Linked DNA regions of Homo sapiens: region 2 is linked to region 1. The links come from fine-mapping of genetic effects on gene expression. Tissue or cell type: skeletal muscle. Region 1 holds a variant in brackets; the other region holds the start of a gene. All regions are shown on one strand. Distances are from middle to middle.

Region 1 (5,217 bases):
GGGCAGGGACACCGAGGGCAGAGGTGGGTGACGCGGCCACACGGCAGGGACACCGAGGGCAGAGGTGGGTGACGCAGCCACACGGCAGGGACTCCGAGGGCAGAGGTGGGTGACGCGGCCACACGGCAGGGACACCGAGGGCAGAGATGGGTGACGCGGCCACACGGCAGGGACACCGAGGGCAGAGGTGGGTGACGCGGCCACACGGCAGGGACACCGAGGGCAGAGGTGGGTGACGCGGCCACACGGCAGGGACTCCGAGGGCAGAGGTGGGTGACGCGGCCACACGGCAGGGACACCGAGGGCAGAGATGGGTGACGCGGCCACACGGCAGGGACACCGAGGGCAGAGATGGGTGACGCGGCCACAGGGCAGGGACACCGAGGGCAGAGATGGGTGACGCGGCCACACGGCGGGGACACCGAGGGCAGAGGTGGGTGACGCGGCCACACGGCAGGGACACCGAGGGCAGAGGTGGGTGACGCGGCCACACGGCAGGGACTCCGAGGGCAGAGGTGGGTGACGCGGCCACACGGCAGGGACACCGAGGGCAGAGATGGGTGACGCGGCCACACGGCAGGGACACCGAGGGCAGAGGTGGGTGACGCGGCCACAGGGCAGGGACACCGAGGGCAGAGGTGGGTGACGCGGCCACACGGCAGGGACACCGAGGGCAGAGGTGGGTGACACGGCCACACGGCAGGGACTCCGAGGGCAGAGATGGGTGACGCGGCCACAGGGCAGGGACACCGAGGGCAGAGATGGGTGACGCGGCCACACGGCAGGGACACCGAGGGCAGAGATGGGTGACGCGGCCACACGGCGGGGACACCGAGGGCAGAGGTGGGTGACGCGGCCACACGGCGGGGACACCGAGGGCAGAGGTGGGTGACGCGGCCACACGGCAGGGACACCGAGGGCAGAGGTGGGTGACGCGGCCACACGGCAGGGACACCGAGGGCAGAGGTGGGTGACACGGCCACACGGCAGGGACTCCGAGGGCAGAGATGGGTGACGCGGCCACACGGCAGGGACTCCGAGGGCAGAGATGGGTGACGCGGCCACAGGGCAGGGACACCGAGGGCAGAGATGGGTGACGCGGCCACACGGCAGGGACACCAGATTGCCCTCACGTCCTCACAAGGAACGAGCCCCGACAGAACCTTGATCATGGACTTCCGGCCTCCAGGACTGAGAGACGATGAACTCTGTTTCAGCTGCCTGGTCTATGGCACTCTGTCACCGCGGCCCCAGCAAACCGACACTAACACCTGGCAAGCAGGCATCTCAGGACGCACCTCAGTCCTCGTGACGACTCCAACAAGCGGGTCGGCCCTGTCTCCAGCTGAACTGAGCCAGGTTGGGCAGGGACGCGTGGTCGCATGCCCAGGATCACATAGACAGGAGAACAAACGGGCTGTCATCACACGGAAGGGAGCAGTGAAGGGCGGTGGCCGAGGGACACGGAGGGAGGGAGCAGCTGCGCGTTGCTCACTGTGCTGCGGTCCCAGGAGCCAGCTGCCCGAGGGGCAGCTTCTTTTATAAGAAAACGACACTTCCTATCACGTCTATGCAAATGTCCATTTTAACTTTAAGTGCACAGATGTCTAATGGCCCGAGACACGTAGGTTAACACCCGTGCACGCGTACACAGAGGCCTTCACCTACAACCATCCCCGTGTAGACAGCATCAGAGGCAGGGCACCAAAAGCATTAAAACCATGCAGATGACCTACCTGAGCACTTCGCAGACCTAGAACGTCAACTATGTAAAATACCTGCCCATGAACATTGGCAAACTCCTGGCCTCAAGCAATCCTCCCACCCTGGCCTCCCAAAGCGCTGGGATCACAGGTGTGAGCCACCATACCCGGCCTCCTCCAGGAGGCAAATGCTGAGGAAAGCCGTGGATTCTACTGACCCACTGGATTTTGCTGAAGCTGTGTGCGCGCGCATGTGTGTGTGTGCGTGCATGTCTCTCCAGATTCTGTCTCTCTCCCAGACCAGCGGTTCTCGATGGATGTGCTGAGACACTTGGTGTTGTCTCACATGGAGTGGGGGGAGGCCAGGGACGCTGCTCAGTGCCCTGGAGTGCCCAGGACGGCTCCATCCCAGAGGATGATCCGGCCTCAACATCCACAGCTCCCACTGGGAGAAAGCTGGACTAGAAGAGGAGGACCTGAAGAGCCTGTGGGTGCACCAGGCCCTTGACACAACACCGTCTCATGACCTCGGCGCAGTGACCTATGCGGCAGGACTGGGGATGGAGGTGTTCACTCAAGGCCACTGGAGCCACAGGCACGGCAGGATCCGCGCCCGGCAGGCGCCTGACCTGCCCCCACACTCAAGATCAGAGGCGTTCAGTGTCTTGGTTCCCCTAAAATGCCTCTACATGAGGTGAACAGCCACCACCCCCTAGAAAATGAGGCGTGGGCTGCCTGACCGCATAACCCACCCCGCGCCAGAGACAAGCAAGGCATTGGCCCGCCACGCTTTAAACAGTGGCTGACGTCAGACTCAGATGACACCGGCGACGTGGACCTCCACGCCACTAAACAAGCATAGTCCCAGACACACTGGGTGTGCCCACAGCTTTGTTTCCCTTTCAGGGAAAGCAACATC[C/T]ATCAGCAATCATTAAAAAACAAAACAAAACAGAGAGCAAAAGAGCCAGACCCAAAGCACACACAGGGTGTGACACCGACTCCATTTCTATGAAATGTCCAGGACAGGCCCATCCAGAGACAGGAAGGAGACGCGTGGGTGCCGGGGCTTGGGGAGGGGAAGGGGAGTGACAGCTGGTGGGGACCAGCTTCCTTGCTCCCTTTTGGGGCGATGAGACAGCTCTGGAACCAGAGAGTGGTGATGGTTGCACAACCCTGTGAAGGCACCAAATGCCACTGAATTTCACGGTGTGGGGATCACAGCGGTGTGGGAATCACAGCTCAATGTTTTAAAGGGGGAGAAATCTACAAGAGCTGTGTTTTGTGTCGCTGGACAGGGAGTTACGGTCTTCCTGAAAGCTCCTGCGGGATGGTAATGAGTTTTCCGCCCCCATCTCAGGACACAATGGACAGCCCAGAACTTTGAGGTCTGGGATCAGGACTGCCTAGAGCCGGCGGGCAGCCAGTCCCAGAATCCAAAGATCTCATGTACGACACATCAGGGCCCACGGCAGTCAACCACCACCAGAAAGTGAAACCACAAAAGCTGACGTCATCCGCCCCGGCCAACAGGGTTCAGAGAGCAAACCAGTCAGGTCTCCTGACCCCCAAGCCCAAGGAAAACAGACACATGCCACCCGAAAGGTGAAGATTTTTGGTTTACGGAGTTTCTTTTGTTTTATTTTTAAGCACGTTTTGACAACAGCATTACAATAGCCAAAAGCAAACAGCCCAAGTGTCCACGGACAGGTGAGTGGATCAACACAATGTGGCCTAGCCACACGACGGAACGCTACGCAGCCATGAAAAGGAAATCCTGACCAGGCTACAACATGGGCGGACCTTGAGGACGTCGCACTCAGTGAAATAAGCCAGAAACAAAGGTACAAAACCTGTGTGACTCCCCTCCTAGGCGGTCCCTAGAGTCGTTGGATTCACAGAGACCAAAAGTGGAATTGGGGGTGCCAGGGGCTGGGGAGTGAATGTTTCATGGGGACAGAATTTCAGCCTGGGGAGATGAGAAACTTCTGGAGATGATGGTGGCGATGGCTACATAGCTGTGTGAATGTGCTTAAAGCCACTGAACTGTGCATTTATAACTGATTAAGATGGTAATTTTTGGCCTGGCATGGTGGCTCACGCCTGTAATCCCAGAACTTTTGGAGGCAGAGGCAGGTGGATCACCTGAGGTCAGGAGTTTGAGACCAACATGGTGAAACCCCATCTCTACTAAAAATGCAAACAAAATTAGCCAATCATGGTGGCGCACACCTGTAGTCCCAGCTACTCAGGAGGCTGAGGCGGGAGAATCGCTTGAACCCGGGAGGTGGAGGCTGCAGTGAGCTGCGATAGAGCCACTGCACTCCAGCCTGGGTGGCAGAGCAAAACTCCGTCTCAAAAAAAAAAGAAAGACTGGTCGGGCACAGTGGCTCATGCCTGTAATCCCAACACTTTGGGAAGCCGAGGCAGGCGGATCACCTGACATCAGGAGTTCGAGACCAGCCTGACCAACAGGTGAAACCCAGTGTACAAAAAATAGCCGGTCGTAGTGGTGCGCGCCTGTAATCCCAGCTACTTGGGAGGCTGAGGCAGGAGAATCACTTGAACTCGGGAGGTGGAGGTTGCCGTGAGCCAAGATCGCACTACTGTACTCCAGCCTGGGCAATAAGAGCAAAACTCCATCTCAGAAAAAAAAAAAAAGACCAGGCGCAGTGGCTCACACCTGTGATCCCAGCAGCACTTCGGGAGGCCAAAGCGGGGGGATCACTTGAGCATAGGAATTCAAGAGCAGCCTGGGCAACATAGGGAGACCCCATCTCTGCAAAACATTAAAAAATTAGCTGGGTGTGGTGGCACACATCTATAGCCCTAGCTGCTTGAGGGGCTGAGGCAGGAGGATCGCTTGAGCCCAGGAGGTCCGTGCTGCAGTGAGCTGTGATCACACCAATGCACTCCAGCCTGGGAAAGAGAGTGAGACCCTGCCTCAAGAAAAGAGTTTCTCTTCAAAGTCTGGGGTCTTTGAGATGAGGGTCACACCCAACCAGGTGTCTTTAGCTGAGAATGGTGCCGACATCTCTTCAGAGGTTTCATTGGAAATGATTCTGTAACAGGCGGCATCAGGTCAGGATCCCCAGGCAGACACACCTCACTTGGTGACCTCAGATTTGGAAGAGGCAACAGCAAGCAGCAGAAACAAGACCTGGGCCAGGAGCGGTGGCTCAGGCCTATAATCCCAGCACTTTGGGAGGCTGAAGTGGTCTGGAGTTCCTGACCAGCCTGGCTTCTACTAAAAATACAAAAATTAGCCGGGTGTGGTGGCGGGTGCCTGTAATCCCAGCTACTCGGGAGGCTGAGGCAGGAGAGTTGCTTGAACCTGGGAGGTGGAGACTGCACTGAGCTGAGATCGCACCACTGCACGCCAGTCTGGGTGACAAAGCAAGACGTCATCTCAAAAAAAAAAAAAAAAAAAGAAATCAGACCTGGCTGAGTCCCCGCATAAACCTAGAAGGCGGGGGTCACAGCCCCCTCTTACAGAGGGAGTGACAGGCCCAGACAG
Region 2 (5,217 bases), 44 kb after region 1:
TCCTCAGCTCAGGAGGTCAGGGAGACGGAGCTCTGTCCCAAAGGCCATCCTGTGCCCCCGGCCACCTCTCATCGTTGGTTTGCGGATGGGCTGGTGACCTATTTTGGAGCACCTACATCAGTGCCGTCCTCCAGTCTGACTCGGTTTGAACGATTAGAGAATTTTATTTTTCCCTGAACTTGAAATTGGGAGGAGGGAATGCTGTCGGCACGTGGAGGTGCTTGGAGTGGGGCCTGCCAACCCGGAGGACGCTACGGCTGTGATGAAGGCTACCCCACTACATCGTCCAAGCACCTCCAACCCAGTTTACGGTGGGGTCCGGACCTGCCCCTGAACTTGGCGGTTATGTGAGCCTATAAATTCCCAGTTATTATTTATGTTTTTATTGGCTGGGCACAGTGGCTCACACCTGTAATTCCAGCACTTTGGGAGGCTGAGGCAGGCAGATCACTTGAGGCCAGAAGTTCAAGACCAGCCTGGCCAATATGAGGAAACCCCGTCTCTACTAAAAAATACAAACATTTAGTCAGACGTGGTGGCCCTTGCCTTAGTCGGTGTGAGAACTGACTAATGCAATTAGTGAGACTATATTATGAACCTTTATAGTGTTAGAAATAAATTTTCGGTGCCACAAAAGAAACAGCACTCGAACATTAATTTTCTCAGCACGGCAATTTTACTTCTATAGAAGGGTGCGTCTGGCAGGTGGAGCCCAGCGCCGCGCTGCGGGGCCTGCTGGGACTTGTAGTTCACAGGCTCAGGGTGCGCAGGCGCAATGCCGAGTTTGCCTCTGCGCGAGTCGGGGTTGGCGGCGCCTGAACGAGCACACCTGAACGAGGGAGGAGAAGGGGTTCTTACCCCTGACGCAGGTACCCCTACTGCTGTGTTGTTCCCCTATTGGCTAGGGTTGGCCCGCACAGTCTAAGCTGATTCTGATTGGCTGTTTTAAAGAGCAGGGGTATGAGCCAGAGTGGCGGGGTGAGTAGTTTGGCAGGAAGGACGGCTACAGAAAAGGTGACTCAGAATGACTAAGAACAGAGCAGGTGACCAAGGATAACTAAGGTCAGAGCAGGTGACAAGGGTGACTAAGAACAGAGCAGGTGACCAAGGATAACTAAGGTCAGAGCAGGTGACAAGGGTGACTAAGAACAGAGCAGGTGACCAAGGATAACTAAGGTCAGAGCAGGTGACCAAGGATAACTAAGGTCAGAGCAGGTGACCAAGGATGACTAAGGTCAGAGCAGGTGACAAGGGTGACTAAGAACAGAGCAGGTGACCAAGGATAACTAAGGTCAGAGCAGGTGACCAAGGATAACTAAGGTCAGAGCAGGTGACCAAGGATGACTAAGGTCAGAGCAGGTGACAAGGGTGACTAAGGTCAGAGCAGGTGACCAAGGATGACTAAGGTCAGAGCAGGTGACAAGGGTGACTAAGAACAGAGCAGGTGACCAAGGATAACTAAGGTCAGAGCAGGTGACAAGGGTGACTAAGGTCAGAGCAGGTGACCAAGGATAACTAAGGTCAGAGCAGGTGACCAAGGATGACTAAGGTCAGAGCAGGTGACAAGGGTGACTAAGAACAGAGCAGGTGACCAAGGATAACTAAGGTCAGAGCAGGTGACAAGGGTGACTAAGAACAGAGCAGGTGACCAAGGATGACTAAGGTCAGAGCAGGTGACCAAGGATAACTAAGGTCAGAGCAGGTGACAAGGGTGACTAAGAACAGAGCAGGTGACCAAGGATAACTAAGGTCAGAGCAGGTGACAAGGGTGACTAAGAACAGAGCAGGTGACCAAGGATAACTAAGGTCAGAGCAGGTGACAAGGATGACTAAGGTCAGAGCAGGTGACCAAGGATGACTAAGGTCAGAGCAGGTGACCAAGGATGACTAAGGTCAGAGCAGGTGACAAGGATGACTAAGGTCAGAGCAGGTGACCAAGGATGACTAAGGTCAGAGCAGGTGACCAAGGGTGACTAAGGTCAGAGCAGGTGATAGGGGCTAGGAGGGGTTGTTTACTGAAACTAGGGGCAAGGAAACGAAAAGAACGAGGAAGTTAAAGTTTAAAATGAAGAACAAAGAATAGGTGGCCGGGCGCGGTGGCTCACGCCTGTAATCCCAGCACTTTGGGAGGCTGAGGCAGGCGGATCACGAGGTCAGGAGATCGAGACCATCCTGGCTAACACGGTGAAACTCCGTCTCTACTAAAAATACAAAAAAATTAGCCGGGCGTGGTGGCGGGCGCCTGTGGTCCCAGCTGCTTGGGAGGCTGAGGCAGGAGAATGGCGTGAACCTGGGAGGCGGAGCTTGCAGTGAGCCGAGATCGCGCCGCTGCACTCCAGCCTGGGCGACAGAGCGAGACTCCATCTCAAAAAAAAAAAAAAAAAGAACAGGGGAGCTGAATATACGGAAACATTGGTTCTTTGGAGAGGAGCTCATAACTGATTGTACTTAACAATTTACAGGCTAAAACCTTTGAAGAGGAATTTGTTGTATCCTACAACAGTATATTAATTATAGTAGTTTTACTATTTTAATTTCTCATAAATAACAATCAGTAGAATATTAAATAAATATTTAAACAATAATTTAATTTGGCTGGGCGTGGTGGCTCACGCCTGTAATCCCAGCACTTTGGGAGGCCAAGGCGGGCAGATCACTGGAAGTCAGGAGTTCGAGACCAGCCTGGCCAACATGGTGAAACCGCGTCGCTACCAAAAATATAAAAAATTAGCCGAGTGTGGTTGTGCACGCCCGTAATCCCAGCTACTTGGGAGACTGAGGCAGGATAATCGCTTGAACCCGAGGGGGCGGAGGTTTCAGTGACCTGAGATCATGCCATTGCACTCCAGCCTGGGCGACAAGAGCGAAACTCAGTCTCAAAAACAAACAACAATTACTTAAGCAATCATTTTAATAAGTATGTAATACATTATACGTTTATATAACTTGCTTAATAAATAATAGTAGTTATTAATATCCAATGGCAAGCCGCCGGGAAACGACGGAGCTGGGATTTGAGGATTGGCTCCGCGAACCCCACAACACCCGGGGACTCCAGCGAACCACACGGGGTGGATCCAACAGCCGCAGGGGCATCGTGGTCCTGCGGAGACGCCGCCCGCCCGGAGGCGGCGCTGTGACCCAGGTTGGAGAGTCAGGAGCCCAGCGCCGCGCTGCGGGGCCTGCTGGGACTTGTAGTTCGCAGGTTCGGGGTGCGCAGGCGCAGTGCCGAGTTTACCTCTGCGCGCGTCGGGGTTGGTGGCGGCGGCTGCGGCGAGTTCCTGAGGGGCGCCTGCGGGGGGCGTCCGCTCCGAGCGCCGAGGAGCCGAGCGGAGGAGGCGTCCCAGGGACACGCAGGGGAGGCCGGCCGGCCTGCACGGGGCGCTCCCGCCTCGGGGGCCCTGTCTGGCGCCTCAGCGCGCGCCCCGATGGTCACCTGCGCCCACCTGGGCCGGCGCGCGCGGCTCCCGGCAGCTCAGCCGTAAGTGCCGCCGCCTCCCGCGCCGCGACCTCCGTGCCGGGCCTGCCGGGGCTCTGGTGGGGCTGGGTCTGGCGGGGCCGGGTGGCCGGGGCATGACCCTGTCGCGATAGGGTCCCCACGGGAGGGTCGGGAGCCGGCAGCTCGCCCAGGGCCCCAACGCCCAGGATGGCACGGTCTGCCCTTGCCCTGTGAAAACGCCCCTGGGTGAGAGACGCATAAGCTTTCCGAGGCCCAGCCTGCAAGGAGAGGGAGAAGACGCATTGACTCTACCCTAAAGGCAGAGAGGGGCTGCCACGCTCGCACTGCAGTGAGGCCACATCAGAGGGTCTGAGCGAGGGGCGGTCCTGCCCTCCAGGGGACACCGGGCGATGTCTGGGGACGTCTGTGGTTGTCATAACTGGGGGCAGTTCCTGGCATGGAGTAGGTGGAGGCCAGGGATGCAACTCAGCACCCTGCCCAGCCCAGAGAATGACCCAGGCTCCAGTGTCCACAGCGCCCTGAGGGAGAGACCTCACTTATACGTTAGCACCGCTGTCCTGGTGATAAGACAGCAAGGGTCCTTTTTTTTTTTTTTTTGAGACGGAGTCTGGAGTGCAATGGCATGATCTCGGCTCACTGCAACCTCCGCCTCCCGGGTTCAAGCCATTGTCCTGCCTCAGCCTCCCAAGTAGCTGGGATTACAGGCGTATGCCACCACGCCCGGCTAATTTTTGCATTTTTAGTAGAGACGGGGTTTCACCATGTTGGCCAGGCTGGTCTCGAACTCCCACCTCAGGTGATCCACCCGCCTCAGCCTCCCAAAGTGCTGGGATTACAGGCGTGAGCCACCGCGCAGCTGCAAGGGTCTATTCTGTTTATACCCACCACCCATGTTGAGGAATGAGGGAGGCAGCTGACCTTTCTGCTGCTCTAGCAACCCCAACCTCCCTGAACTCTCCCCTACCCAAACAGGTTGGTTTCTTTTTCTTCTTCTTTTTTTTTTCTTGAGACAGTCTCGCCCTATTGCCCAGGCTGGAGTGCAGTTGCACGATCTCGGCTCACTGCATCCACCTCGTGGGTTCAAGTGATTCTCCTGCCTCAGCCTCCCAAGTAGCTGGGATTACAGGTGCACGCCACCCCGCCTGGCTAATTTTTATATTTTTAGTAGATACAGAGTTTCTCCATGTTGGCCAGCCAGGCTGGTATCGAACTCCTGACCTCAGGTGATCCACCTACCTCGGCCTCCCAAAGTGACCACTGCGCCCGGCGCCTTTGGTTCTTACATGAGCCTCCTGGAGCTGCTGTGACAATGCACCACAAACCAGGGGGCAGGGGGAGGCTTGAAATTTATTCTCTCACAAGTCTGGAGGCCAGAAGCCCAACATGAAGATGTGGTGGGGCCGTGGTGCTTCTGAAGGCTCTGGCGGGAGGATCTTCTCTGTCTCTTCCAGCTTCTGGGGGTGGCCTGCCATAGTTGGTGTCCCTTGGCTTGGGGCCACATCACTCCAAGCTCTGCCTGCATCATCATGTGGCCTTCTTCCCTGTGTCTCTTTCTCCTTTTTTGTTTTTATTTTTATTTTTTGAGATGGGGTCTCGGTCTGTCACCTGGCTGGAGTGCAGTGGCACGATCTCGGCTCACTGCAATCTCTACCCCACAGGATCAAGCAATTCTGCCTCAGCCTCTCGAGTAGCTGGGATTACAGGTGCACGCCACCACACCCAGCTAATTTTTGTATTTTTAGTAGAGACGGGGGTTT

Evidence for each region. PIP is the estimated chance that this variant, and not a neighbour inherited with it, causes the effect.
Region 2: ZNF554 starts here. The variant in region 1 is the best candidate, but not a certain one, in a credible set for the expression of ZNF554 in skeletal muscle (FUSION, PIP 0.64).

Annotation. Positions count from the first base shown.
Region 1 is chr19:2,772,906-2,778,122 of GRCh38, forward strand. The region is part of intron 1 of SGTA (small glutamine rich tetratricopeptide repeat co-chaperone alpha); the gene reads right to left. Among named protein-coding and RNA genes, the nearest start is that of SGTA, 7.8 kb to the right of the region's middle. The variant C/T (reference allele first, on the strand shown) is at 2,623.
Region 2 is chr19:2,816,644-2,821,860 of GRCh38, forward strand. ZNF554 (zinc finger protein 554) reads left to right here and starts at 3,225. Exons shown (of 5, transcript NM_001102651.2): 1 at 3,225-3,481. The coding sequence starts at 3,429. RefSeq lists a silencer at 3,264-3,703 and an enhancer at 3,636-4,329.